Homo sapiens: one gene and its partners. The protein of the gene in region 3 purifies or fractionates together with the protein of the main gene of each other region. This does not show direct contact. Each region holds a gene or a part of one and is shown on either strand. Other genes may lie near its edges. The genes, in order: FH, ALDH1B1, HEXB, HNRNPH3, HK1, IPO5 and RPL22.

Region 1 (3,500 bases), on a different chromosome or scaffold from region 3:
TTTAAAAATTTCTATTTAATGCAGTTAGAGTAACTTGTAAGCTATTAGGAATTACTTATTCTTACCTTAATTTTCTTTTCTTTTCAGGAATTTAGTGGTTATGTTCAACAAGTAAAATATGCAATGACAAGAATAAAAGCTGCCATGCCAAGAATCTATGAGCTCGCAGCTGGAGGCACTGCTGTTGGTACAGGTTTAAATACTAGAATTGGCTTTGCAGAAAAGGTTGCTGCAAAAGTGGCTGCACTTACAGGTTAGTGATCACGTGAATTATTTCTCATTTTCATTTCTCATTATACGTGGTCTGTACATTTTCTGAGTGTTCCTGTCTTGAATTCTTGTGAATTTAAAGTTAGAAATGATATTTTTCCATCAAACATGTGTTTTAAGTATATTTCTGAAGTTATAATGTTAATTATTTGCCTTTTAAAAAATGTTCCATGTAGGAGTTTATACAGCATGCCATTAAAATCTACCAGTGTTAGCTTTGTTTACTAGTTAGTTTTCAATTAATTTCCCTTTAAAGTTTTGAATAGCAGTTTTCAAAATAGGCAGAAAAAACTGAGTGTTGAGTAAGTTATTTGAATAGTAAATATGTTGTAGACAGACTTAATTTCTTTTTTTTCCTATTATGTCATGCTGTGATAATTCTTTGAATTATTGACCTTTTTGAACCATGTCTTTCCTTTAGTAGAGAGAGTATTATACTTTAGATAATGATAACTATTATTAGGGCCAAGTTGTCATCTTCAGAAAACTCTCATTAAGATGTAGATGTTACCAGACGGTTAGGGTAGAGATAATTATACACTGCACATGATAGCTTACCAGCTGATTTGTCTTTAAACCATATTTTAATAGAAAAGAACTCTACTTTTAGGGTTTGGCAAATGTAGATTTATAAAATTTTTAACATGGGGGTTAACTGAGAACATCTAACTCATTTTAGCACACTGTTTTTATAGGGGATCTTGTGGGCTCCTGGCTAGGGGAGAGGATGAAGCACAGTAAAGTGGACAAAGAAACTTTAAAAAATTGTATTAGGGGCCGGACATGGGGGCTCACACCTGTAATCCTAGCACTTTGGGAGGCCAAGATGGGCAGATCACTTGAGGTCAGGAGTTCGAGACCAGCCTGGTCAACATGGCGAAACCCTGTCTCTAGTAAAAATTTAAAAAAATTAGCCGGGCATGGTGGCGGGCGCCTGTAACCCCAGCTACTTGGGAGGCTGAGGCAGGAGAATTGCTGGAACCCTGGAGGAGGAGGTTGCAATGAGCCAAGATCGTACCACTGCCCTCCAGCCTGGCTAAAAAAGCAAGACTCTGTCTCAAAAAAAAAAAAAAGAAAAAAGGTATTAGGAAAGGAGTGTGGTATAAACCAGAATGAATTCCCATATACTTTTTACTCAAGCATAGTCAGGCATCATATACGTGTGTTTGCAGTAGGATTGTGTTTTTTCTTTCAGTACATTTATCATACTTGTTATTTCATCTTTTTAAAATGTAGTGCCTGGCTAAGCACAGTGGAATTACACTCCTGTAATTCCAGCACTTCAGGAGACCAAGGTGGGTGGATCGCTAGAGCCTAGGAGTTTGAGACCAGCCTGGGCAACATGGCGAAACCCCATCTCTACTAAAAATTAAAGAATTAGCTGGGCGTGGTGGTGTGCACCTGTAGTCTTAGCTACTCTGGAGGCTGAGGTGGGAGGATTGCCTGAGCCATGGAGGTTGAGGCTACAGTGAGCTGTGATTGAGCCACACTGCACTCCAGCCTGGGCAGCAGAGTGAGACCCTGTCTGAAAAAACTTAAAAAATGTAATACCAGATTCTTTCTACTCCTTTAGGACTTCTTTTAAAAATGTAGACAAAATTTGAGTCTTAAGTAAACATTTTTTTCTGAAGTAAAATTTTTATTTTTTCGTATATTGGAACTTTCTGTTTCACTTGCTAATGGTAGAAAAATGTTTAGTTTAACTTGTTCACCCATCTAGGATATTTTTCTTTTCTTTAGGCTTGCCTTTTGTCACTGCTCCGAATAAATTTGAAGCTCTGGCTGCTCATGACGCTCTGGTTGAGCTCAGTGGAGCCATGAACACTACTGCCTGCAGTCTGATGAAGATAGCAAATGATATTCGATTTTTGGGTTCTGGTCCTCGGTCAGGTCTGGGAGAATTGATCTTGCCTGAAAATGAACCAGGAAGCAGTATCATGCCAGGTAATCACATAGCTAGTAAATGTTGGAGCTAAAACTTGACTAGGTCCTAGGCATTCTTAGCTATGGACCATGTCTCTCTTTGTTTAAAGTTATCCCGCAGCTGGATGCGCAAGGCGCACTGTTCCAGCATGTCTGTGGTCCTCTGGTCAGGACTGCTGGGCACGTCACCTGACAAGATAGGAAGAAAGAATCTGACTTAGCAGCAAGTATTTCGAATCCCACATTAGAAAATGTAGAGCAGGCTGTTAAAGTGATCAGCGCGGGTTGAATAAAAAGAAGTCATACCAAACTTCACTTATTTCATTTTTTGCATTCCGTTATATGCCTGTTAGATATAGCAAGTGACACAACAGTGTATGTCTGGATTTCAGCAAGTCATTTGATAGATTCGCATGATAGTCATTGATTCCAGTGGAGAAGCGTGGGCAGTGCTGGCAGATGAATGTAGCTGGGTGAACAGTGACATTTCAGAAGTGACTAATGAAGTGACTTCAGTCTAGAAGAATATATTGGTAACAAGCTGAAGGGCTCTGCCCTTCAACACTTTACTGGTGACTGAGGGTGAAGGAAGAGAATACATGCTAATCATATTAACAGTTAACAAAGTTGGGATAGCAATACTATGGATGACAGAACTGAGATCCATAAAGGCCACTGTAGCTTGGGCTAAAACTGACAATGTAACTTTTAATAGTGAGAAAGGCCTGACTCTAGATTTTTATGGAAATTATGGATCTGTAGAATAAGAAGAGATGAAATTTTGTTTTAAAGTACTTCATGTTGAAGAATGACATAAAGGTTTAGTTGATTGCAAATCCAGGGTGATTGCCAAAAGAAAGAGAACTGGGGGAGTCACAGATAAAGGCAATAATCCACCCAATAATCTTTCCAGTGTGTTAACTTGTACTGGTCAGAGGAATCTGGGTTGTTTGATTCAAACTTGGAGCTTGTCCAAGGAGTGTGAGCAGGGTAGTGGGGTTCCAGAGACTCGTGATAAATAGGAAAATTTTAGCTTAGCATCACCTTCCCCTAGGAAGCCTCCCATGTGTTAGTGAAGGGTCGCTTTTATAAGTGTTCTGATAGCAGCATACACTACTCTGTATTTACCCCTTATAATTGCCAGCTCTTTCTCCCTAGCCTCCAAGTTCTGCGAGGGCAGGGCCTGCATCTTTCTTATTCAGTGTTGTATATTGAGTGCCTGGCTCCATAAATATGTATAGAATGAATGAAAATCATGAAGGTGGAGAACTATATTTAATGTGTAGTTGTGGCTACTCGTTAGCCTT
Region 2 (3,995 bases), on a different chromosome or scaffold from region 3:
AGGCCTTCCCTGACCACCCTTTAAAAAATTGCAACCCTTCCCACCCCAACACTCTCTATCCCCGCTACCCTGCTTTACTCCTTCTCTATCTCACATCCCAAATACTATCTTTACAGGCTTATATGTTTGTCTGTCTCCCCCCAGTAAAATGCAAGCTCCATGAGCACAGGAACTTATTTTTCTGTTCCATTCACTGCTACGTCCCCGAGCCTAGAGGTATGCCTGCTACAGAGCAGCGGCTCAACACACAGTACTGAATGATACACTGAGAAAACACTGAAATTGCCACAAAGGCTGTCTAAGAATTGACCTAAGACTTGAGTAGAAATCAAAGGGACTTGGAGATGGTTGTTCTCTGAGAGGGACTTGCTTCATTTCACCTCTGTGCCTCAGTTCCCCCATATGTGAAATGCCTCATGGGGTTATGTTGAATGATGTCTTGCATATAAAAACCCTGGCAAGCTCCACTCAGGACATCAGAACTGGCCGTGCCTCAGAAATTGACCTAGCCCAGCATCCCCCAACCACAGGTCTCAGCATCCCTTTTCAGCTTTCCCAGAGGTGCAGCAAGTCAGGAGGCAGCTGAGAAGAAAAGCTACAACTCTGAAGAGTGTAGACTTCGTTAAAACAACTACTGTTATAAAACTTAAACGGCATATAATACATATTAAATGAAAATTAAACAGAGTGTAGTGTTCCCAGATTAGTTGAAGCAGTTATTCTTCAGTCAGAATTTGAATCTCTCTGCCTTTGATGTCTCATGAGTCTTGCTCCGCCCAGCGGTAAAATGGAATTGCACCTGCCTGTCCCTTCACCCCCAGCCTCTCACCCTCCACCCCTGGGCAGGGAGAGGAACAAAAAACTCAATCAGGAAAGCAAGGCTCCATGTAGGTCCCCGGCCCCATAAAAATCAATGTGATGGGCGTGGTGGCTTACGCTGGTAACGCTTTGGTAGGCCGAAGTGGAAGGACTGCTTGAGGCCAGGAGTTTGAGACCAGCCTGAGCACATAGCAAGAACCGTGTCTCTACAAAAAAACAAAAATAAATTTGCCGAGCATAGTGGTGCATGCCTGTAGTTCTAGCTGCTTGGGAGGCTGAGGTGGGGGCAATCACCTGAGCCCAGGAGGTTGAGGCTGCAGTGAGCCATGATTGTGCCACTGCACTCCAGCCTGGGTAACAGAACAAGACTGTATCTAAAAAAAATAATAATAATCAATGCTGACCAAGAAAGTTTCCCTTCCCCTTGCGGGTGTTAGGAATAATGCTCAAAATCCTAAGGAAATTGAACACTCGAACACAGGATTCTTAGCAAAGCAATTTTACTTCTGCGCAGAGGGATGCCTCCTTGGCCAGTTGCCATGAGAGCACACCTGAACAAAGGGGCACGAGAGCCTTTATTCCTGATGCAAGTCCTGCCCCTGTACCCTTTCCCCATTGGCTGGGGTCAGGTCGTACAATCTAAACTAATCCCGGTTGGCTAAACATTTGATTTATTTTAGATAGAGTGGGCACGTAAAAGAAAGTGGAGAGAAAGGGGAAAGGGTGTCTGTAATGAGCTAGAAAGTTAGTCTTCTTTCCAAATAAGCAAAGGAATGTGAGCTGGTACTGATAACGCTTGGTACTGTGGCATGCCTGGGCATCTAACAAAGGCAAAAAGGAGAAAAATGAAAAAAAAAAAGGGGGGGATACTAAGAATTAAAGAATAAAAGATTGATCAGATTATTTGAAGAGAAACCTCATCATATCCCACAGGGGGAAGCTGAGTCAGCAGATCTGCCAGGGGTGCCCAGGGTTCCATTTAGCTCAGGACTTTGCCATATGCTGGGACACAGCCCCCTTGCCACCAACAGGCCTGGCTCTGAGGGTGAGGAGACCAAAAGGAGGTAGGGGAAAGGGGAGTCACCAACCCATGGGGTAAGGATTGGAGGGGTGAAGCAGTCAGGAGAGGTGGTCATAGGCCAAGGCTGGCAAACCTTTGCAGCCACACCAAGGCCGTTCCTACTCTTGGGGCCTATATGGGGTTCTTGCTGGGGCCTCCACTTGCTGATAGGAAGATCACAGCTCACAGAGCATCATGCTTTACAGTTTGCAGGCTGTCTTCTCACGGGAAATTTGCCAAGCCTCTCTGCAGTCCCTGGGTGGTCAGGGTTGATGATGACCCCCATTCTGGAAGAAGGCTGGGCATCAGAGAGGTTCAGGGACTCACCGAGGACACACAGCAAGAAAGTATAGGAGCCTCACCCCAGACTTCCACAAACCTAGCTTTGCATATCCTCCTGAATACAGGCAATTTTTTACAGTTCACCCACAGCGGGAAGGACCGGACCTTCTCTATCCGCGGGAACTGCAGCGGCGCCCACCTCACCCCTTCTGCGGGGGAAAGGGCGCAACCTTTGGGCTTGTCCAAGCCTCTGGGCTATGGTCAGGGGCCCTCTGTTGAAGTGGGCCGAGTGGGCAGGAGTGTTGAGGTCGAGCTAACGTGGTAAGGTCTGGGGGCGTCTGTGTCCTCGGGGCTCCTGTAGCGTCACCCAGAGGCGGGGGATGGGATTAGGGGACGTGGAGAGAGTCCTACAGTGCAACGGCGGAAAGGCCAGCCCCCAGATGCGGACGCCGCGGCCCAGAGAGGAAAGCCCCCACGCGGAGCCAGGAGCTGCGGCTTCCCGAGGGAGCCGAGGGGAGACCAGCGTTAGTTACCTGCAGCAGGCTCGGGCTCCGGTTCAGGATCACGCTTGGGTTCTGGTTCCGGCCCTCCCAGCTCTGTCCACATGGCCGCCCAGGGCTGGCCGCAGGTCCCGCCTCCGCGCAGCCCGGGGCTCAGCGGCCAATGAGGCTCCGCCTGCGCCTGGGGCGCTGCCTACGTCCTGTCGCCGGCCAAGGCCGCTCCTCCCTCGCCCCGCCCGGTCTTTCCCGGTCCCCGCCCCTCTACCCCCGGCAGCCCGCACCGCTTCAGCGCTCCCTCCCTCGGGTCTCCGCAAGCCCAGTGTCCACGTTGCTCAGATCTAGGCTCCTAAGGCACTGGTTTGGGAGCGGAAACAGAGATACCCAGAGAGGGGCAGGGGCTTCCCCAGGTCACACAGCAAAGTTTTCGGAGACCGAACCCCAACTACACTTTGCATTTCTCCCCGCTGCAAGACGCTGCTTAATCGACTGCCATCCTTGAGACTCCCCTTAACCCCTTCTCTGCCTCGCCTCTCCCTCACTTTTTTTGTCCAGGATTCACTAATTTCTGTCCTCCACTTTCACTGCTCCTTTCTTCAGTTCCTTCAAGAAGATTTTATATTTGGGCATTTTTCAAAGTACATTTTTGTCCTAAGGACAAAAAGAATGTATGCACAGTGTAGAAAGCTTGGAAAACACAGGAAAGGATGAAAAAAGAAGAAAAATATCACCTGTAATCTCTTCACCTACGGTAGCCATTATTACGGTGTTCGTCCTGCTAGTATTGTTTCCTCTGCATCTTTCAAAATTATTTTAATAAAAATAAAATCATATAGTAACCTCTGTTGTGCTGCTTTAAAAAAAATTTAAAAACTTAGCGCTGTATTTTGAAGTTTTCTCCTATCACTAATTACAGATGACATCATCCTCTCCAAGGTGGCATAGAATTCTGTTGTAGGGGTAAACTGTTGGACATTTAATTGTCTCCATTTTGTTGCTATAAAGGTTGCCAAGATGGACCACTGAACATGCATCTCACTCGCTCCACCCTCGCTGCACCTTCCTTCTGGCTAGGGAGGTCCCAAAGCTAACCGCCATGTTTCCCAGCCTCATTTGCAGTTAGAGTTCTGGATGTGGACTAGGTGCTGCCAATTAGTAGTACTCTGCCGGATGTGGAAGGCGGGCACGCATTGGAGGGTATTGTCCTGCCCCTGTAGGGTGGCACTAGCAGGATAGCAGAAATGGGAGATGTTCTGCGGCAGCATTCCTTGTCCCTTCTCCAGCTTTCTGGCTGTGGACCGGCCGCTGTGGCTGTAGCCGCTCCTTGACCTGGCTTC
Region 3 (3,500 bases):
TTGCTCTGTTGCCCAGGCTGGAGTGCAGTGGTGAAATCTCAGCTCACTGCAAGCTCCGCCTCATGGGTTCATGCCATTCTCCTGCCTCAGCCTCCCGAGTAGCTGGTACTACAGGCGCCTGCCACCACGCCTGGCTAATTTTTTGTATTTTTAGTAGAGACAGGGTTTCACTGTGTTAGCCAGGATGGTCTCGATCTCCTGACCTCGTGATCCACCTGCCTTGGCCTCCCAAAGTGCTGGGATTACAGGCGTGAGCCACTGCGCCCAGCCAAGAGACGCTTATTGATGTTTGTTCTGATCCATACCAAAATAAAGAACTCTAGCAAGGCTGGGCACGGTGGCTCACGCCTGTAATCCCAGCACTTTGGGAGGCCGAGGTGGGTGGATCACTTGAGGTCAGGAGTTGGAGACCAGCCTGGTCAACACAGTGAAATCCCATCTCTACTAAAAATACAAAAATTAGCCGGGCATGGTGGTGCACGCTTGTAGTCCCAGCTACTTGGGAGGCTGAGGCAGGAGAAGTACTTGAACCCGGGAGGTGGAGGTTACAATGAGCCGAGATCGCGCCACTGCACTCCGTCCTGGGTGACAGAGCAAGACTCCGTCTAAAAAAAAAAAAAAAAAGATAAAACCACTCTTGCGAGTATGCAGTGACTAGATTTCTAGTCCAAGAAGTCCATATTTTCTGTTTACCATCAGACTTTCAGAGTAATGTACTCTAAACTGATCATTATTGAACGTAATGTCACTTAACAGAAACTTTCAGAGTTATTCTTCCCAGCATGAACCTGTACTTGACGAGGTTGGAGAGACAGGAAGGCGTAGCAAAGATGACTGAACTGTTCTTAGGTTAAAAATTCCCTGGCTATATAGCTGTCAGCTAGAATGAGGAATCTGAATAAAGTCAAGGCCAGTTAGAAGAATTAGCCTGTCAACTAGTATATTAAGGGAATAATCCACTTGAGTAAAAAATGTTCAGAAGGTAGTCTTTGCAGCTATAAGTAAAATGCTGTATATTGTAAATTGGCCTTTATTTATAGTTTCATGGTTTTTCCAGCCATTTTTCCCTGTTGCATTTAGATACCTTCTAAAAGTGACTATATTTGATTATAAAAATTCTTTCTCATGATGCCATAAATTTATTAAGGAACCAGTATTTTATTAAATTACTATTCTTCTTTTGTCTATATTGAAACAACCCCCAGGGTATGGGTACAATGAAGTAAAGCACTTTTATTAGATGAGTAGAGAAGTGCAATGGATTTTTTTTTAATTTGGCTTTGATTTTAGAAATTATGGTAGAGGGTGTAGGTATAACAATATATTTTAGAGGATAGAGGTATAACACTATATTCAATTATATTTGCCTTACCTGGTTATGAGTCTGTTTGAATAATATAACTTTTATCATCTCAATTTGTTGATTTATAAATTAATGCAATAAATTTTACTTTCCTCAGGTTTAGAGACCTTTAGCCAGTTAGTTTATCAAGATTCTTATGGAACTGTAAGTATGATTATTATATGTTACTAAAAATTGTTAGACAAATTGCTAATAGAAAAAAATGTAACCTGTTTAGCTATTGCTTCCTGAAGATTTCATTTCCCCAGATATTTGTCTTAGCCGGTAAATGTAAATTTCATACATTTTTGTTGTTCTAAATTAATATTTTATGAAATGCTTGTATAAATAGATTTAGTCTTCATTGAGTTCAAGACAACAGAAAATTCTAAAACTAAATCAAAATTTTATTTTGTCATAGTTCACCATCAATGAATCCACCATTATTGATTCTCCAAGGTTTTCTCACAGAGGAATTTTGATTGATACATCCAGACATTATCTGCCAGTTAAGATTATTCTTAAAACTCTGGTAAGTAATTACTTCATTCTAATCTGTTGTCTATTCTGAAGATGTCTCCTTTATGTTGTAACTTTATGTTGGTTACTATTGTGTAGTTTGGAACAGGGGAATTTGTATAAGCACTGGGCATTCTTTCCTCAGTTCCTAGGGAAGTGTATTTCCTCAGCTGTGACGTGGAGGTCCCCTTGAGAATCACCCTCCTGTTTTCAGTGCGAGAGCCACGTATAACATGTATTTAGCCAAGACTGTTAAGAGAAGGACAGTTTAAACACTGCCCATTGGCCCTTTACATATACTCCCATTTGTCAAATCATGTGTCTAGACTTTTGATTAGGAATACATGGCCACCCAGGTGCGGTGGCTTACACTTGTAATCCCAACACTTTGGGAGGCTGAGGCAGGTGGATCACCTGAGGTCAGGAGTTCGAGACCAGCCTGGCCAACATGGCCAAACCCCATCTCTACTAAAAATACAAAAATTAGCCAGGCGTGGTAGCGTGCGCCTGTAATCCCAGCTACTAGGGAGGCTGAGACAGGAGAATTGCTTGAACCCTCCCCGGGTGGAGGTTGCAGTGAGCCGAGATCGCACCACCGCACTCCAGCCTGGGCGACAGAGCAAGACTCTGTCTCAAAAAAAAAAAAAAAAAAAGGAATACGTGGCCACCACACCATACTTCTAGTTAGTGCCATTTAAATTTTGTGACCACCTCTTACTTTTTTTGTAAGTGGCATTAGAAAGGAGTCCGGGAGCTCCTTTATACCTAGGGAACTATTCCAAAGGAATATGGAACCTCAGGGGTGGTATGGGTTAGGAAGAAGGTTGACAATAACTGTTTTCTCCTATGGGCTTTTTTTTATTGGTTAATCCCCACCATCACCTGCCAATTTGTAGGGGTGGGGAGGTTTCCTCCCATGTTTTTTTGCACCTTCACTTGATCATTATGATGAAACTATGCTATTTAAAAATTATTATTATTATTATTTATTTATTTATTTTGAAACGGAGTTTCGCTCTTGTTGCCCAGGCTGGAGTGCAATGGCGCGATCTCGGCTCACTGCAACCTCTGCCTGACAGGTTCAAGCAATTCTCCTGCCTCAGCCTCCTGAGTAGCTGGGACTACAGGCATGCACCACCACGCCCAGCTAATTTTGCATTTTTAGTAGAGACGGGGTTTCTCCATGTTGAGGCTGGTCTCGAACTCCTGACCTCAGGTGATCCACCTGCCTTGGCCTCCCAAAGTGCTGGGATTGCAGGTGTGAGCCACCGTGCCCAGCCAAAAATTATTATTATTATTATTATTTTTTTTTCTTTTTAGTTGAAGTCTTGCTCTGTCGCCAGGCTGGAGGGCAGTGGTGCAATCTTGGCTCACTGCAACCTCCGCCTCCCGGATTCAAGCAATTCTCCTGCCTCGGCCTCCCGAGTAGCTGGGATTACAGGTGCACACCACCACACCCAGCTAATTTTTGTATTTTTAGTAGAGACAGGGTTTCACCATGTTAGCCAGGATGTTCTCAATCTCCTGACCTTGTGATCCGCCTGCCTCAGCCTCCCAAAGTGCTGGGATTACAGGTGTGAGCCACCACGCCTGGCCTAAAAATTATTTTTACATTTACATTAATACTCTGAATTTTTTC
Region 4 (3,500 bases), on a different chromosome or scaffold from region 3:
TCTTGGTGGATCATAAAATCCTTTGATTTCACTCCTGCTACTTCTGAAGATCTCAATATACCTATTTAAAAATGTTTTAAGGTACAGGTTTCAGCATAAATGTATTAGTGTAAATTAGATACTGGGCAAAATGCAGTAAGTTTTTCTATATCTAGATACATAACCCAATTTAAATTGCCTAAATACACCGTAAGTTAACAGTTTAAACCTACAAACTTAATTAAATATTTAAGTTTTACAAAGAAATTAGTCACGGAAAACAATTCATAAAGTATATTTTTACTTTGTCTCTTTTAGTACATAATAGGTGTTTTAAAGGAAATAGGTGATTATACAAAAGCATTTATCAACAACATCCTACAGAGAAATGGAAACAATCTAATTTTAATTTAACTATTAGCATTAATTCCCCACCCAAATCTGTAGTTTCCAAGTTAAATTTAGATAATTATCAATTCTTTTAAACTACCCCAGAAAAATGTTATGGCTACCCCCCCATTTAAGCAATAGTGACCCACAACCCCCAAAAATAAAAATTTAACACCATCCCAAACTCTCCATCCCCACCTGTGCCCTATTCTTTCCTTGTGTTTCCCCAGAGCATTTTCTGCTATCTCCTTTGAAGCAAACTGCACGAAGGCCTCCCCTGTGCTTCTCCCCTGGTAGTCCATCGTCAATGTTATCCCATTTGGCACGATTTCCAACCCTTTAACCCAAGGACAAATAACCCCATCAAGGGGAACAGTGTTAAAGGCTGAAACATTCCCATCTGAATCAAATATTTAAAACAAGTCTAAACAAAACAAAACAAAACAAAAAAGCTTAGTTTCCCATCACCCCATAATACAAATGAAAGATTTTTTCAAATATTACTGGATTAAATAAATTTTTTGCGACCAGTGTAAAAACACTGTGTAATTACACACTCTAAAAGCCCACCTATATTACATGAAAAAAGGCTACAAAATCAAATATATGCTCCATATACTAATTCACGGTTCATTTCATCACAATTCTCAAATATGTTACTGCACATTAACTAGGTTTTACATATTCTACACATTCTGTATTGAATATTAACTGGAGCATATTATTTTAATACATTAACCAAGACTATCATAGTTAAACTTAAAAGTTCCAAAATCAAATGGGTTTTACAAATTAAAAACAGTAAAACAATACAAATATAAAATTACAATACTACTAAACTTTGACTAATACTAGAGGTACCTTGAAAGAACTGAACTATTTCCTCTTTGCTGCAACCAAATGGTAGTCCACGAAGTCGTACTGTCCCATCACTAGCGTCATTTGGACCATTATGTTTCATAACCCAATCCATCTCAATACCGTTTGATTTAAATGCTATAAAAAATAAACAAGCACATAGAGCAGTCAATCAAAATATACTCTTGTCAAGAGGTAATGAAGAAACACCTCTCAGAGGTGCCACAAGAGGAAATGTAACATGGGGCCAACTGCTGTGACAATGCCACAACAAAATTGTAGACCACCTTTCATATTTTGGGGTACGGAAAAGGCAATGAGACCTGACCCCCTCCTACGGAAAAGTACTGAATTTCGTAGTATCAATATTATATATTGCCTAATTTTAAGAAAACTTGCATAATTCTACTACCAGAGTCTTCAAACTATTTGTGTCCCCTGAATGCCAACTCTAGCCTTTCCTTATCTCTCAAATTTTCATTCACCACTTTTCAGGTTTTTATTCAACTGATTATTCAAATTCTTTAAAACTTATTCAGAAGTTGCATATAATACCAGTATCCACTAACATCAAGAGCCTAAGTAAAAAAATGCAATGAGTACTGATTGACGTTGGACAAATATCACAGAAGTCTAACCCTTTTAAATGCACTACAATTTTGAACACATCAAACTGTCTTTGAAGGGCCAACACTCCCACCTCTATTTTAGCCAAATCTAGTTTAAACTCACCAAGAGCAAGATTATAAAATGACTGAATTAATCAGATTAAAACTGAGGTCAAAGGCCACTCAAAAGTGAATGCCTTCCAACAGTACCTGTGTTTTTGAAGCCACTGGAGACAGTGTTTAGAAACCAGTTTACTCAAATTTTTAATCAAATAGATTTAAACAAACTTTAATAGGTAATATACTTTTTAATAAAGCATAAAAGGTACATCTAGAAGCCCCCCTTCCCCTCCAAAATAACCTCAGTTCCCAGTTCCCTTCCCCAGAGGCAACCATCCTTCCTTTTAAAATTCCATAATATTTACAAAAGAGGTGAATGCAGAAGTCCTTCAGCTGCAGAAACTTACCAGAACCTTACAAATCTCACTATGCAGCTGTAGGAATCCTACTCACCTGAGTATTTCAAACCTTTCCCTCACCACCTCCTCCCCTGTAAACAAAGTTTGTTCATTTGATTCCTTTATGTTTGAAGATCATATTTCGTATCAACAGCATTCACTAATGCTTAATTTCATGTCATCTATTTGTTGGTGCATCTCTTAGGGGTGGCATCTGCAAAGGGTAAAATATTTTTCCCTAGAATTCATGCACTTAAAATAAGCTAATGTAGAAATTCTCTGGAAGTAGTTAAGTACCTCTAGTGTCAATCACCTTCAGCCCTAGGTGCCACTCTAGACATAGAAAACCAAAATGGGAATACAAACTTTTAACTGACATTACAACTACTTGTTATGCACACAAATAAATATTATGAATGTTCTGGGTCTGAATCCCTACTCTGCCACTCACTGGCTACCTGAACCACTTTACCTCTGAGCCTCTTCAATTGTAAACTATAGCAGTTGTACCTGTACCTCACTGGACTATTCAAGTGCTTGGTCTGCCTCATGGTAAGCATTTACTGATGGCAATTGTTACTGGACTTTAAGGGGCCCTGCAAAAGCCAGTGAGCTATACCATACACAAAATATGTGAACCCTGAAGGACAGAAAACAATTCAAGCCTTGAAAAGAACTGAGAATTATTAAAAATTTTATTTCCCAAAGCCAGCAAAGGCTTTTATAAGTTTAATACTATTCTAAAGAGTAGCTCTGAGAGGAGGCGGCCCCAATCCAGTTTGGGAAAAAAAAAAAGTTCAGAGATGTTTTGAAAATGCCTACCGTTTTATTTATTTTTTTTAAATAGCACCAACCTAAAAAACAAGTGTTTCCCATAAACGGTGATTTACACAGAACGGAAAAAGTGGTACAGATCTACCCTCACTGCTTCATGAAAAATTGAAGAACTCTGCAAATTCGACCTTAATCTGTTGTGAGAGGATCTTAGTGGTACGATTTGCATTTAAGGAGCAAATGCTTAAAAAAAAAAAAAAAGAAAAGAAAAAGAAAAATTAATTTACCCATAAATCTTAGCAATTCACAGGAAAAAATTACTAGCAAGCCAATTGGATTTTTGGATCAGTCTGTACCAATGATAAGACCCAATGAAAACAAAAAAAGTGTTATCAGTGTTATCTGTAAGAAACACTAAACTGTTAACACAATT
Region 5 (3,500 bases), on a different chromosome or scaffold from region 3:
CGTAATTGTATTTTTAAAATATTTTTAAAGTATTTGCAAAAATCTTGATAATGAAACTTTTATTAGCCATTTCTTTCTTTTTTCTTTGTAATTTCTTGGCTAATTTTTTGGACAAGAAAGCCTAGGGATTTGCAGCATCACATTAGAATTTTTTTAGATTGTGGTAAAATACACATAACATGAAGTATATCATCTTAACCTTTTTTTTTTTTTTTTTTTGAAGGCAGGGTCTTGCCCTGTTGCCCAGGCTGGAGTGGAGCGGAGTGGTGTGCTCTCAGCTCACTGCAACCTCTGCCTCCCAGGTTCCAGCAATTCTCCTGCCTCAGCCTCCCGAGTAGCTGGAATTACAGGCATCTGCCACCATACCCAGCTAATTTTTGTATTTTTAGTAGAGACGGGGTTTCACCATGTTGGCCAGACTGGTCTTGAACTCCTGACCTCAGGTGATCCACCTGCCTTGGCCTCCCAAAGTACTGGGATTACAGGCATGAGCCACCTCGCACTTGGCCCCATCTGACTTTTGAACACCGTGCTTTTGACCACTGTGCTGTATTATCTTCCTGTCATGGTGGAGGGCAAAATCTTTTTAGACCTGGAATTTTTTGTATGTGATACTCATGTAATAATGAGAGTCTTCTCTTTTTATGTGTGATTATGAACGATTTCATTTTTCCTTTTTACCTCTCTGCATTTGCTAACTTTTCTACAGTGGATGTATATGATTTGTGTAATGAAAAAAGCAGGTGCAGAAAATGGAATTAGGCTGGGCACAGTGGCCCATGCCTGTAATCCCAGCACTTGGGAAGCTGAGGCGGGTGGATAGCTTGAACCTAGAAGTTTGAGACCAGCCTGGGCAACATGGCGAAACCCTGTCTCTACTAAAAATACAAAAAAGTTAGCCGGGCGTGGCCCCAGCTACTCGGGAGGCTAAGGTGGGAGGATCACCTGAACCTGGGAGGTTGAGGCAGCAGTGAGCTGTGATTGTGCCATTGCACTCCAGCCTGGGTGACAGAGCAAGACCCTGTCTCAAAAAAAAGGAAAAGAAAAAAGAGTTAAAGAGTGGAGAAAGAAAGGGTGGCCGGAGGTCCCCAATAAATGCTCAGTCCAGCTGTTGTGGAATGTCCCCCCTGCCCCCATAAGGTATTCCCGGCGTTTCCACAAGACTCTAAGGCGCTTGGTGCCAGACTCCGATGTGCGCTTCCTCCTCTCGGAGAGTGGCAGCGGCAAGGGGGCTGCCATGGTGACGGCGGTGGCCTACCGCTTGGCCGAGCAGCACCGGCAGATAGAGGAGACCCTGGCTCATTTCCACCTCACCAAGGACATGCTGCTGGAGGTGAAGAAGAGGATGCGGGCCGAGATGGAGCTGGGGCTGAGGAAGCAGACGCACAACAATGCCGTGGTTAAGATGCTGCCCTCCTTCGTCCGGAGAACTCCCGACGGGACCGGTGAGGGCCTGCTGGGGGCTGACATGCCTGTCCTGCTCCTGCCAGGAACTGAGCCGCAGTGGGGGAGGTTGGATTCGCCAGTGGATGCCTTCACACTGGTGATGCACGATTTTGCCAGAGCTAGAAACTCCCTCACATCTCTGTTTTCCATTTTTATTAACTGATTTGTCATGTGTGTGACTCAGGGCAGTTTAATTTTCCTGGTCAGACCTCCCAGGCAAGTGCTATCTCTAAAACCACAGCCCTGCTCAGAACAGTGCTCTTAGCTGGGCAAGGTGACACACGCCTGTCATCCAGCTACTTAAGAGGCTGAGGTGGGAGGACTGCTTGAGCCCAGGAGTTCAAGACCAGTCTGGGCAACATAGCAAGACCCTGTCTCAAAAAAAATTAAATGAATAAAAAAGAAGTGTTCTTAAAAGCTGGGCAAATCCCACAGCACTGATTAGGTTTTCCCAAAGCCAAGGAAAGCCAGCAGAAGGATAAACACTCAGTGTACCCTTCTTAAATCTTGATAGAGTATGCATGAGGCATTCAGGGCCTGGGGAGTTTCGCATTCAGGCAAATTGTAGAACAAAATCCAACCCTTTATGCTAACCTTGGTAGTTTTCACTGGAGCTGATCATTATGGGGAATCTGAAGAGCTTTTCAGGTGGGTCCTTGGAGTAACGAATGTTTGTGACAGGAATGTGTCCTATGTGTAAGTTACCTAATACCACATTATAAGCCACCCTCACACTTAGTGGCTTAAAACAACCACGCTTTATTATTGTTCATGCATCTGTGGGTCAGTTGGACAGTTCTGCTCATCAGGGCCAGGATTGGCTGACCTCTGCCGGCCTCATTCCTGCATCTGCAGTCAGCTGTTGAGTCAGCTGGGAGGCAGATCTCAGACGCCCTTCCCCACATGTCCAGCAGTTGGCTGTCAGCTGGGGTGCAGGGGCCCCTGGCCCTGTGTCTCATCCTTCAGTGGGCCACCTGGCTGTTCAAGTGGTGGCAGCAAGGGCTGCGAGGGAGAGGGGAAGACTTCAAAGCCTCCTGGAAGCCCAGGCTGGGGATAGGTTCAGCTTTGCCTCTGCCACACTCTGTTGGCCTGAACAATCCTAGGGCTGGGCTAGATCCCAGGGGAGGAGAAATTGACTCCATGTTTCAGTGGGAGGAACTGCAGTCATGTTGCAAAGAAGGATTTTGCACATGCAGGGAAGGGAATGATGCAGCTGTTTTTGCAAATACCCCACACCTTGACATAAATTATTATTTTTTGTAGGAGATTTTCATTGTTGCAGCCCTGGTGAAGTCTGTGTATTGTGACAGGTGGTTTACTCACATGCTCTCCTCCCAGTGTGGCTCCAAGTCTGTGGTGGTCAGAGATGTGGTGCCCACTCTTCCTCTGAGTCTGTGCTGTGTCCTAAAGGGAGGAGTTGCAGCTTCTCCTCTATGTTTGCTATGGGGTTCTCCCCTTGAAAGTCTGGAGTCTTGGGGTTACTGGCTGCCAAGAGGCACTTAGCTGTTTTTGACATTCTTTACGCTTTTGACTGCAACAGAGAATGGTGACTTCTTGGCCCTGGATCTTGGAGGAACCAATTTCCGTGTGCTGCTGGTGAAAATCCGTAGTGGGAAAAAGAGAACGGTGGAAATGCACAACAAGATCTACGCCATTCCTATTGAAATCATGCAGGGCACTGGGGAAGAGGTGAGATTACAAAACCATAGTGCATGTGCACTGCACACACGGCCAGTGGCACCGGCAGTCACGTGATGACCAAAATCCGCCACGGGGTGCCCACATGGATTTGTGTCCTTGTGGCCCAGAAGCACCAGATGCTTTTTGCCATGCCTGGCTTGTGACACTCTGGTGGCTGAGAAGATTCTGGAAAAGGAGGCTCACTCTGCATGTGTGTGGGGTGTGTTTTCCTACGTGTGTGTGTGTATACACACTTTGGTCCATGTGCACTGATAAAATTAAAACCACAGAGAGCACGGGCGATCCTTTCTTTTCCCCTGCAGCTGTTTGATCACATTGTCTCCTGCATCTCTGACTTCTTGGACTACATGGGG
Region 6 (3,500 bases), on a different chromosome or scaffold from region 3:
TTTAAGAGATGGTGTCTCACTCTGTCACCTAGGCTGGAGTGCAGTGGCGTGATCAGGACGCACTGAAACCACAACTTCCCAAGTAGCTGGGACCCAGGTGCACAACACCAAGCCCAGCTAGATTTGATTTTTTTTTTTTTTTTTTTTTTTTTTAAGAGATAAGGTCTGCCTATGTTGCCCAGGCTGGTCTCAAACTCCTGGGCTCAAGCAGTCCTCCTGCCTTGGCCCCACAAAGTTATGGGATTACACACCTGAGCACTGTGCCTGGCAAGACCTGTCTTAATAGATTAGAGAACCACTGATAGATGGTCAGCTTTCTGTAGCAGTGAGAACCCTACATTTCAAATGTGGATAGCACCTTTGCGGGGAAACATCACTTGGCACATCTGCATTCTTTTTTGACACAGGGTCTCACTCTGTTGCCCAGGCTAGAGTGCATGGCACGATCTTAGCTCACTGCAACCTCCACCTCCCAAGTTCAAGCGATTCTTCTGCCTCAGCCTCCTGAGCAGCTGGGATCACAGACATGCGCTACCATGCCCAGCTAATTTTTTGTATTTTTTGTTTGTTTGTTTTTGTTTTTAAGTAGAGACGGGCTTTCACCACGTTGGCCAGGCAGGTCTCGAACTCCTGACCTCAGGTGATCCACCCACATCTGCGTTCCAATATCTTTCTCAACATAATGATAGCCGTAATTAATATTTTCCAGTACATTTTTATGCCTTTACACACGAGAGTGGTAGACAGACACAAACCCAGATCTGTCTGACTCCAAAGCCCGTTTGTCATCATTCCTTTTACGGTATCCTATAGTGGTATCCTTTACAGAAGACAGCTTTTACCCAACAAAGACTTAACTTCCCAGGATGCCAGAGGACAAAGCGGGATTGCTTTTAAGAGGAAGTTATCAAGACCTTATTTTATAAATGAGATTAGATAGGGAAAGGCAATTTAATCTTTATTAAAAACTGAAAAGGCCAGCATAGGAAGAGGTCCTCGGTGGTCTTTTTCAGGGAAATACTTCAGTTGCTTTTATTAGAAACAGATAGTACCTAAGGTTTTGAGGTAGGTACAGCTTAAGGCATGCTAATGGTCATGGGTCCTTCCATAGTCATTTTTGTATTTTGGTTTACATTTGAGCAATAGGCAGCCCTTCACTGCTGCTGGACTCATTCCTGCCACTATTACAGGTGACAGAGGAGACAGGAGGTATGTCTTTTCTATTTTTATACATGCTTTATATTTAACACAAGCTCTTGGGTATCTTAGATAAACAGAAGTTGCCTAGCACTCCTTTTAGTGCATTGAACCCTTTAACATTTAAGCAAAATAATAAACAGTCTTTTGAGGTTCCTTAACAATGAAACGTGTTCGAGTGGCAGCAGCGGAATCCATGCCTCTTCTCCTGGAGTGTGCAAGAGTCCGTGGTCCTGAGTATCTCACACAGATGTGGCATTTTATGTGTGATGCTCTAATTAAGGCCATTGGTACAGAACCAGATTCAGACGTCCTCTCAGAAATAATGCATTCTTTTGCAAAGGTGAATATTTTTCTCTTAAAAAATATGTATAAGGTTGTATGTTCATTTATTAGTCTTGCTAAAAGTAAAAAAAAAAAATTTGAGACAGGGTATTGCTCTGTCACCCAGGCTGGAGTGCAGTGGCGCAATCGCAGCTCACTGCAACCTCCACCTCCTGGGTTCAAGCAATTCTCATGCCTCATCCTTCCAAGTAGTTGGGATTATAGGCATGCACCACCACACCTGGCTACTTTTTGTATTTTTAGTAGATGTTCCTCAGGTCTCAAACTCCTGGCCTCAGGTGATCCACCTCGGCCTCCCAGAGTGCTGGGATTGCAGATGTAAGGCAGCTAAATAAATTTTTATATGCTATAGTGTATGATTTGTTAAAAAATAAAAATGTTAAATTTTTTGTTTTAATATTTTGGTATTATTATGTTTGTTTTAAAGAGGGTAAATTTGCCTTGGAAGGGCAGTATAGGTAGAGGGAATGATATGGGCAGCAGCATGGAAGCATGCATTCTTTGGAAAAAGAGAAGAAATTCTGAATACTCTAGTATTTTAGTCTTGCACTTAATAATCCAACTATAGAAGCTTGGGTATCATCTCCAGTTTCTGTTCTTTACACTTTCCTCAATTCTTCTCTTTTTTTTTTTTTTCATTGCCCCATCTCTTTTTCATGCCATTGAAATAGCCTCACTTGGGCTACTCCAGATGTCTCCTTTCTTTTCCTCTCAGTTCATTCTCCTTTCCTCAAGCACTGCCTTCCTCTTCATTGAGTCACTTCCTTTCTCATACAGTGTCACTCCCATTTTGCACAACTCTAGTTTGCTCCAATCTTGATTGAAGATTTACAGTTTCTCAGCATCTTTATATGTCCTTATTTACACTCCTGTAATTCAGAATTGCTTCTGATTTTCCAAAGACAGCATGCTTCCATACCTTTGCCTATATTTTATTTCTTCTACCTCTAATGCCCTTCCTTCAGTGTTCTTGTATGTTGTGTGTACGGAGTATGGATATAGCAATTGTGTTCCTTAGGAGCTGGTTGTGTGTGTGTGTGTGTGTGTGTGTGTGTTTTCCATCTTTGAATCCTCAGTACCAAGCATGATGCCTGGCACCTAGGTATGCTCAGTAGTGTTCAAAAGAAAATATTTTTTTCTAACTCCAATCTCTAAAATGCTGTCATTCTAACAAATACAAGCTAAGCATATGTAAATAATCTTCCAGGATACTGAACTGTGTTCATTTTTCCATATGATTCTTAGTGGAGTTTAACTTTGGACTCCAAACACCCCAAATCTTATGGATTGCTTTCTTTCCTCAACCTCATTAGTGCATTGAAGTAATGGGAGATGGATGCCTTAATAATGAACACTTTGAAGAACTGGGAGGTATATTGAAAGCAAAGCTTGAAGAACATTTTAAAAATCAAGAATTACGACAAGGTAAGTTTTCCATGCTTTTATTTCTGAATATAATCCTTGACCATCTTGGCAATCATTTAAAACATTTATTTGGGTGTGTTTTAGTTAAAAGACAAGATGAAGACTATGATGAACAGGTCGAAGAGTCACTACAAGATGAGGTAAGTTATTCCCTTTGGAACTTACTTACGTGACCACTTGCATCTGAAAGACTTGTAAATGCCTCAATTTCTGATTTATGTGACTTGTCATTCTGATGTAATTATCAGTCTTTAGCAGAGGAGTCAGATATATTTCCTCTCTTAATTTATGAATAAGTAATTTGAAATTAAACTGATATGTCTTTCGGTGCTATGTGCATTTTGTTGTAATACCTCACTCAACAAAACACCTTGAGGTTTACCTAGTTCATTTACATACTGCTCACAACAACCATTTGTATTTTGTGGTGCTTTCACTATATTAAAGATGAGTAACCTAAAATTCCAGTGTTAAATGATTGCCTAGAGTCACACTGTTGACGGTCTGGGGCCTTTTTCACCATGTTACTTAGT
Region 7 (3,500 bases), on a different chromosome or scaffold from region 3:
TGTGTAGAAGTCTCCTAAATTTGCATTTGCTCTAAATTCTCCAGAAGGTTGAACTATTGCCAGGATCAGTATCATTACAACAAAAATAATTTTTAAACACAAAATAATTATGGTCACGAATTATCCAGAATGGAATTTAGGTAACCTCTTATAGTTTATTGCCTTTATGTAGATGCTGTTTGCATCTGTGTCCTTCAAGAAATCCCCTATTTCCTTAGTTCTTTCTCTATCCAGTGACTTCTGGCTTTTCTGTGGCCTCCTCTTTTTCAACTTTGGTGTCTTCCAGTTTGGTATTCACATGGTGGCCCTGTTCTGGCATTATTCCTGCCTCCCTCCCTCTGAGCCATTCCCTCAGCCCACTCATCTGTTTGTGTGATTGTCTTTCCTTCTGGAAGCCTCCTTAGGATAGAAAACTTAAGTCATTTATGAATCTTGAGATGCAGAATTCAAGATTTCTGACCTAATCACTCTGTGCCCCATCTATGGTTAATGTATACTTTTTGTTTATTTTATTTTATTTACTTTGTTTTTTGAGACCAAGTTTTGCTCTTGTTGCCCAGGCTGGAGTGCAATGGTGCAGTCTCGGCTCACCACAATCTCCGTTTCCCTGGTTCAAGCCATTCTGGTGTCTCAGCCTCCCGAGTAGCTGGGATTATAGGCGCCTGCCACCACGCCTGGCTAATTTTTGTATTATTAGTAGAGATGGGGTTCCTCCATGTTGGTCAGGCTGGTCTCGAACCCCTGACTTTAGGTGATCCACCCACCTCGGCCTCCCAAAGTGCTGGGATTACAGGCATGAGCCACTGCGCCTGGCCATTTTATTTTATTTTTATTTATTTATTTTTGAGGTGGAATCTCACTCTGTCACCCAGGCTGGAGTGCAATGGTGTGATCTTGGCTCACTGCAACCTCCACCTTCCAGGTTTAAGTGATTCTCTTTCTCAGCCTCCCGAGTAGCTGAGATTACAGGCGTGTGCCACCATGCCCACCTAATTTGTGTATTTTTGTGGTAGAGACGGCGCTTCACCATGTTGGCCAGGTTGGTCTTGAACTCCTGACCTCAGGTGATTTGCCAGCCTCGGCCTCCCAAAGTATCGGGATTACAAGCATGAACCGCTGTGCCCAGCCAAATTTTTTTTTTTTTTTTTTGAGACGGAGTCTTGCTCTTTGTCACCCAGGCTGGAGTGCAGTGGTGTGATCTCGGCTCACTGCAAGCTCCGCCTCCCATGTTCATGCCATTCTCCTGCCTCAGCCTCCCGAATAGCTGGGACTACAGGTGTCTGTCACTATGCCCGGCTAATTTTTTGTATTTTTAGTAGAGACAGAGTTTCACCGTGTTAGCCAGGATGGTCTCAATCTCCTGCCTTTGTGATCCGCCTGCCTCGGGCTCCCAAAGTGTTGGGATTACAGGCGTGAGCCACCGCGCCTGGCCCCAAATTTTTATTTATTTATTTATTTTGAGACGGAGTCTTGCTCTGTTGCCCAGGCTGGAATGCAGTGGCACGATCTTGGCTCACTGTAAGCTCCGCCTACCGTGTTCATGCCATTCTCCTGCCTCAGCCTCCCAAGTAGCTGGGAAACAGGCGCCCGCCACCACGCCTGGCTAATTTTCTGTATTTTTAGTAGAAACAGGGTTTCACCATGTTAGCCAGGATGGTCTCGATCTCCTGACCTCGTGATCTGCCCACCTCAGTCTCCCAAATTTTTATTTTTTGAGAAAGGGTCTGTTGTCCAGGCTGGAGGGCAGTAGCATGATCCTGGCTCACTGCAGCCTCAACCTCATAGGCCCAAGTGATCCTCCCACCTCAGCCTCTGGAATAGCTGGCACCACAGGCATGCACCACCATACCTAGCTAATTTTTAAATTTTTTTGTAGAGGAAGGGTCTTCCTAAGTTGCCCAGGCTCGTCTTGAACTCCTGGGCTTGAGCAATCTTCCTGCCTTGGCTTCCCAAAGTGCCGGGATTACAGGTGTGAGCTACTGCACCCAGCCAGTTAACATATTTTGTATTGGAGTTTTTAAACAGAAAATTATAGGAATTTTGAGCTGAAAGGGACTTCATGTCATTGCCATAGCAAGAAAACAACTAAAAAGGTCCTTTTTGGGCAAAGCTTTCTGAAGCACAAGGAGGTGAATGTCTTGCTGAGGCCCACACAGTAGTTTGCAGAGAATATCTCAGGCTCCTGAGTGGCTGCTGCTTCTGCTGTACCACACATGGCCCTGGACCAGGTCTAGAATTGTTTCAGTCCCTATGTCTTTGCTCTTTCTACTAGGTTGAAGGCTTATTTTCTGATAGTGCTGTGAACAGTGTTTTATACTCCTTAGATTCAGAAGTTGCTTTTAGCTTTGGTTGCATGTACCTTGTAAAAGTTTGTTTTATTTATTTATTTTTTGAGACAGGGTCTCTCTGTCCCCCAGGCTGGAGTGCAGTGGTGTGATCTCGGCTCACTGCAACCTCCGCCTCCTGGGCTCAAGGGATTCTCCTGTCTCAGCCTCCTGAGTAGCTGGGACTACAGGCACATGCCACCACACCCGGCTAATATTTGTATTTTTTGTAGAGAGAGGGTTTCGCCATGTTGCCTAGCCTGGTCTCAAATTCCTGAGCTCAGGAGATCCACCCACCTCAGCCTCTCAAAGTGCTGGGATTACAGGCGTATCTTGTAAAAGTCTGGCCTTGGGTTTCCTGTCTAGTGTTGTCCTTCTAAGCCTTTCGTGGCGAGGCCCAGTCGGCCTTGTGTGGAAGTAGTCAAGTACGTTTACACTGGGATGTTGTCTCATAGTATGTATGTAAATGGGATTTGTTACCATTTTTAAAAAAGACTGAACATTTAAGAAACCGATATTAGGGCCAGGTATGCTGGCTCACACCTGTAATCCCCACGCTTTGGGAGGCTGAGGTGGGAGGATCACTTGAGCCCAGGAATTTGAGACCAATCTAGCCAACATAGAGAGACCCCTTCTCTTAAAAATGTTAAGCCAGGCGCAGTGGCTCACGCCTGTAATCCCAGCACTTTGGGAGGCAGAGGTGGACGAATCACCTGAAGTCGGGAGTTGGAGACCAGCATGACCAACGTGGAGAAACCCCGTCTCTACTAAAAATACAAAATTAGCTGGGCCTGGTGGCGAATGCCTGTAATCCCAGCTACTTGGGAGGCGGAGCAGGAGAATCACTTGAACCTGGGAGGCGGAGGTTGCAGTGAGCCGAGATCGCGCCATTGCACTCCAGCCTGGGCAACAAGAGCTAAACTCCATCTCAAAAAAAAAAAAAAAAAATTGTAAAGTCAGCTGGGGCCAGGTGGGATGGCTCATGCCCGTAATCCTAGCACTTTGAGAGGCTGAGGTGGGAGGATCACTTGAGTCTGGGAGGTCGAGACTTGAGCTTGGGAGGTTGAGACTGCAGTGAGCTGTGATTGCGCTGGTGAGACTCTGTCTCCAAAACCAAAACAAAAAATGATATTAGTTCAGTGTTGGGAGACAGATAAAATATTCTGTTGAGACAGA

Evidence for each region.
Region 1: the proteins of HEXB (region 3) and FH purify together in Homo sapiens (affinity purification with mass spectrometry; 2 studies listed by BioGRID, with this or other methods). This does not show direct contact.
Region 2: the proteins of HEXB (region 3) and ALDH1B1 purify together in Homo sapiens (affinity purification with mass spectrometry; 2 studies listed by BioGRID, with this or other methods). This does not show direct contact.
Region 4: the proteins of HEXB (region 3) and HNRNPH3 purify together in Homo sapiens (affinity purification with mass spectrometry; 2 studies listed by BioGRID, with this or other methods). This does not show direct contact.
Region 5: the proteins of HEXB (region 3) and HK1 purify together in Homo sapiens (affinity purification with mass spectrometry; 2 studies listed by BioGRID, with this or other methods). This does not show direct contact.
Region 6: the proteins of HEXB (region 3) and IPO5 purify together in Homo sapiens (affinity purification with mass spectrometry; 2 studies listed by BioGRID, with this or other methods). This does not show direct contact.
Region 7: the proteins of HEXB (region 3) and RPL22 purify together in Homo sapiens (affinity purification with mass spectrometry; 2 studies listed by BioGRID, with this or other methods). This does not show direct contact.

The regions. Positions count from the first base shown.
Region 1 is NC_000001.11:241,502,756-241,506,255, reverse strand, and holds part of FH (fumarate hydratase, mitochondrial), read left to right. Parts: intron 1-87; coding exon 88-253; intron 254-2,010; coding exon 2,011-2,214; intron 2,215-3,500. UniProt on the Homo sapiens protein: Catalyzes the reversible stereospecific interconversion of fumarate to L-malate. Experiments in other species have demonstrated that specific isoforms of this protein act in defined pathways and favor one direction over the other.
Region 2 is NC_000009.12:38,391,507-38,395,501, reverse strand, and holds the start of ALDH1B1 (aldehyde dehydrogenase X, mitochondrial precursor), read right to left. Parts: upstream 2,801-3,995; 5' UTR 2,695-2,800; exon of another isoform or gene 1,069-2,694; coding exon of another isoform or gene 937-1,068; intron 1-936. UniProt on the Homo sapiens protein: ALDHs play a major role in the detoxification of alcohol-derived acetaldehyde. They are involved in the metabolism of corticosteroids, biogenic amines, neurotransmitters, and lipid peroxidation.
Region 3 is NC_000005.10:74,695,233-74,698,732, forward strand, and holds part of HEXB (beta-hexosaminidase subunit beta isoform 1 preproprotein), read left to right. Parts: intron 1-1,460; coding exon 1,461-1,507; intron 1,508-1,763; coding exon 1,764-1,874; intron 1,875-3,500. UniProt on the Homo sapiens protein: Hydrolyzes the non-reducing end N-acetyl-D-hexosamine and/or sulfated N-acetyl-D-hexosamine of glycoconjugates, such as the oligosaccharide moieties from proteins and neutral glycolipids, or from certain mucopolysaccharides.
Region 4 is NC_000010.11:68,335,064-68,338,563, reverse strand, and holds part of HNRNPH3 (heterogeneous nuclear ribonucleoprotein H3), read right to left. Parts: intron 1,366-3,500; 5' UTR 1,343-1,365; coding exon 1,231-1,342; intron 707-1,230; coding exon 568-706; intron 62-567; coding exon 1-61.
Region 5 is NC_000010.11:69,381,347-69,384,846, forward strand, and holds part of HK1 (hexokinase-1), read left to right. Parts: intron 1-1,140; coding exon 1,141-1,445; intron 1,446-2,986; coding exon 2,987-3,135; intron 3,136-3,449; coding exon 3,450-3,500. UniProt on the Homo sapiens protein: Catalyzes the phosphorylation of various hexoses, such as D-glucose, D-glucosamine, D-fructose, D-mannose and 2-deoxy-D-glucose, to hexose 6-phosphate (D-glucose 6-phosphate, D-glucosamine 6-phosphate, D-fructose 6-phosphate, D-mannose 6-phosphate and 2-deoxy-D-glucose 6-phosphate, respectively).
Region 6 is NC_000013.11:98,012,675-98,016,174, forward strand, and holds part of IPO5 (importin-5), read left to right. Parts: intron 1-1,367; coding exon 1,368-1,540; intron 1,541-2,855; coding exon 2,856-2,967; intron 2,968-3,051; coding exon 3,052-3,107; intron 3,108-3,500. UniProt on the Homo sapiens protein: Functions in nuclear protein import as nuclear transport receptor. Serves as receptor for nuclear localization signals (NLS) in cargo substrates.
Region 7 is NC_000001.11:6,193,096-6,196,595, reverse strand, and holds part of RPL22 (large ribosomal subunit protein eL22), read left to right. Parts: intron 1-3,500.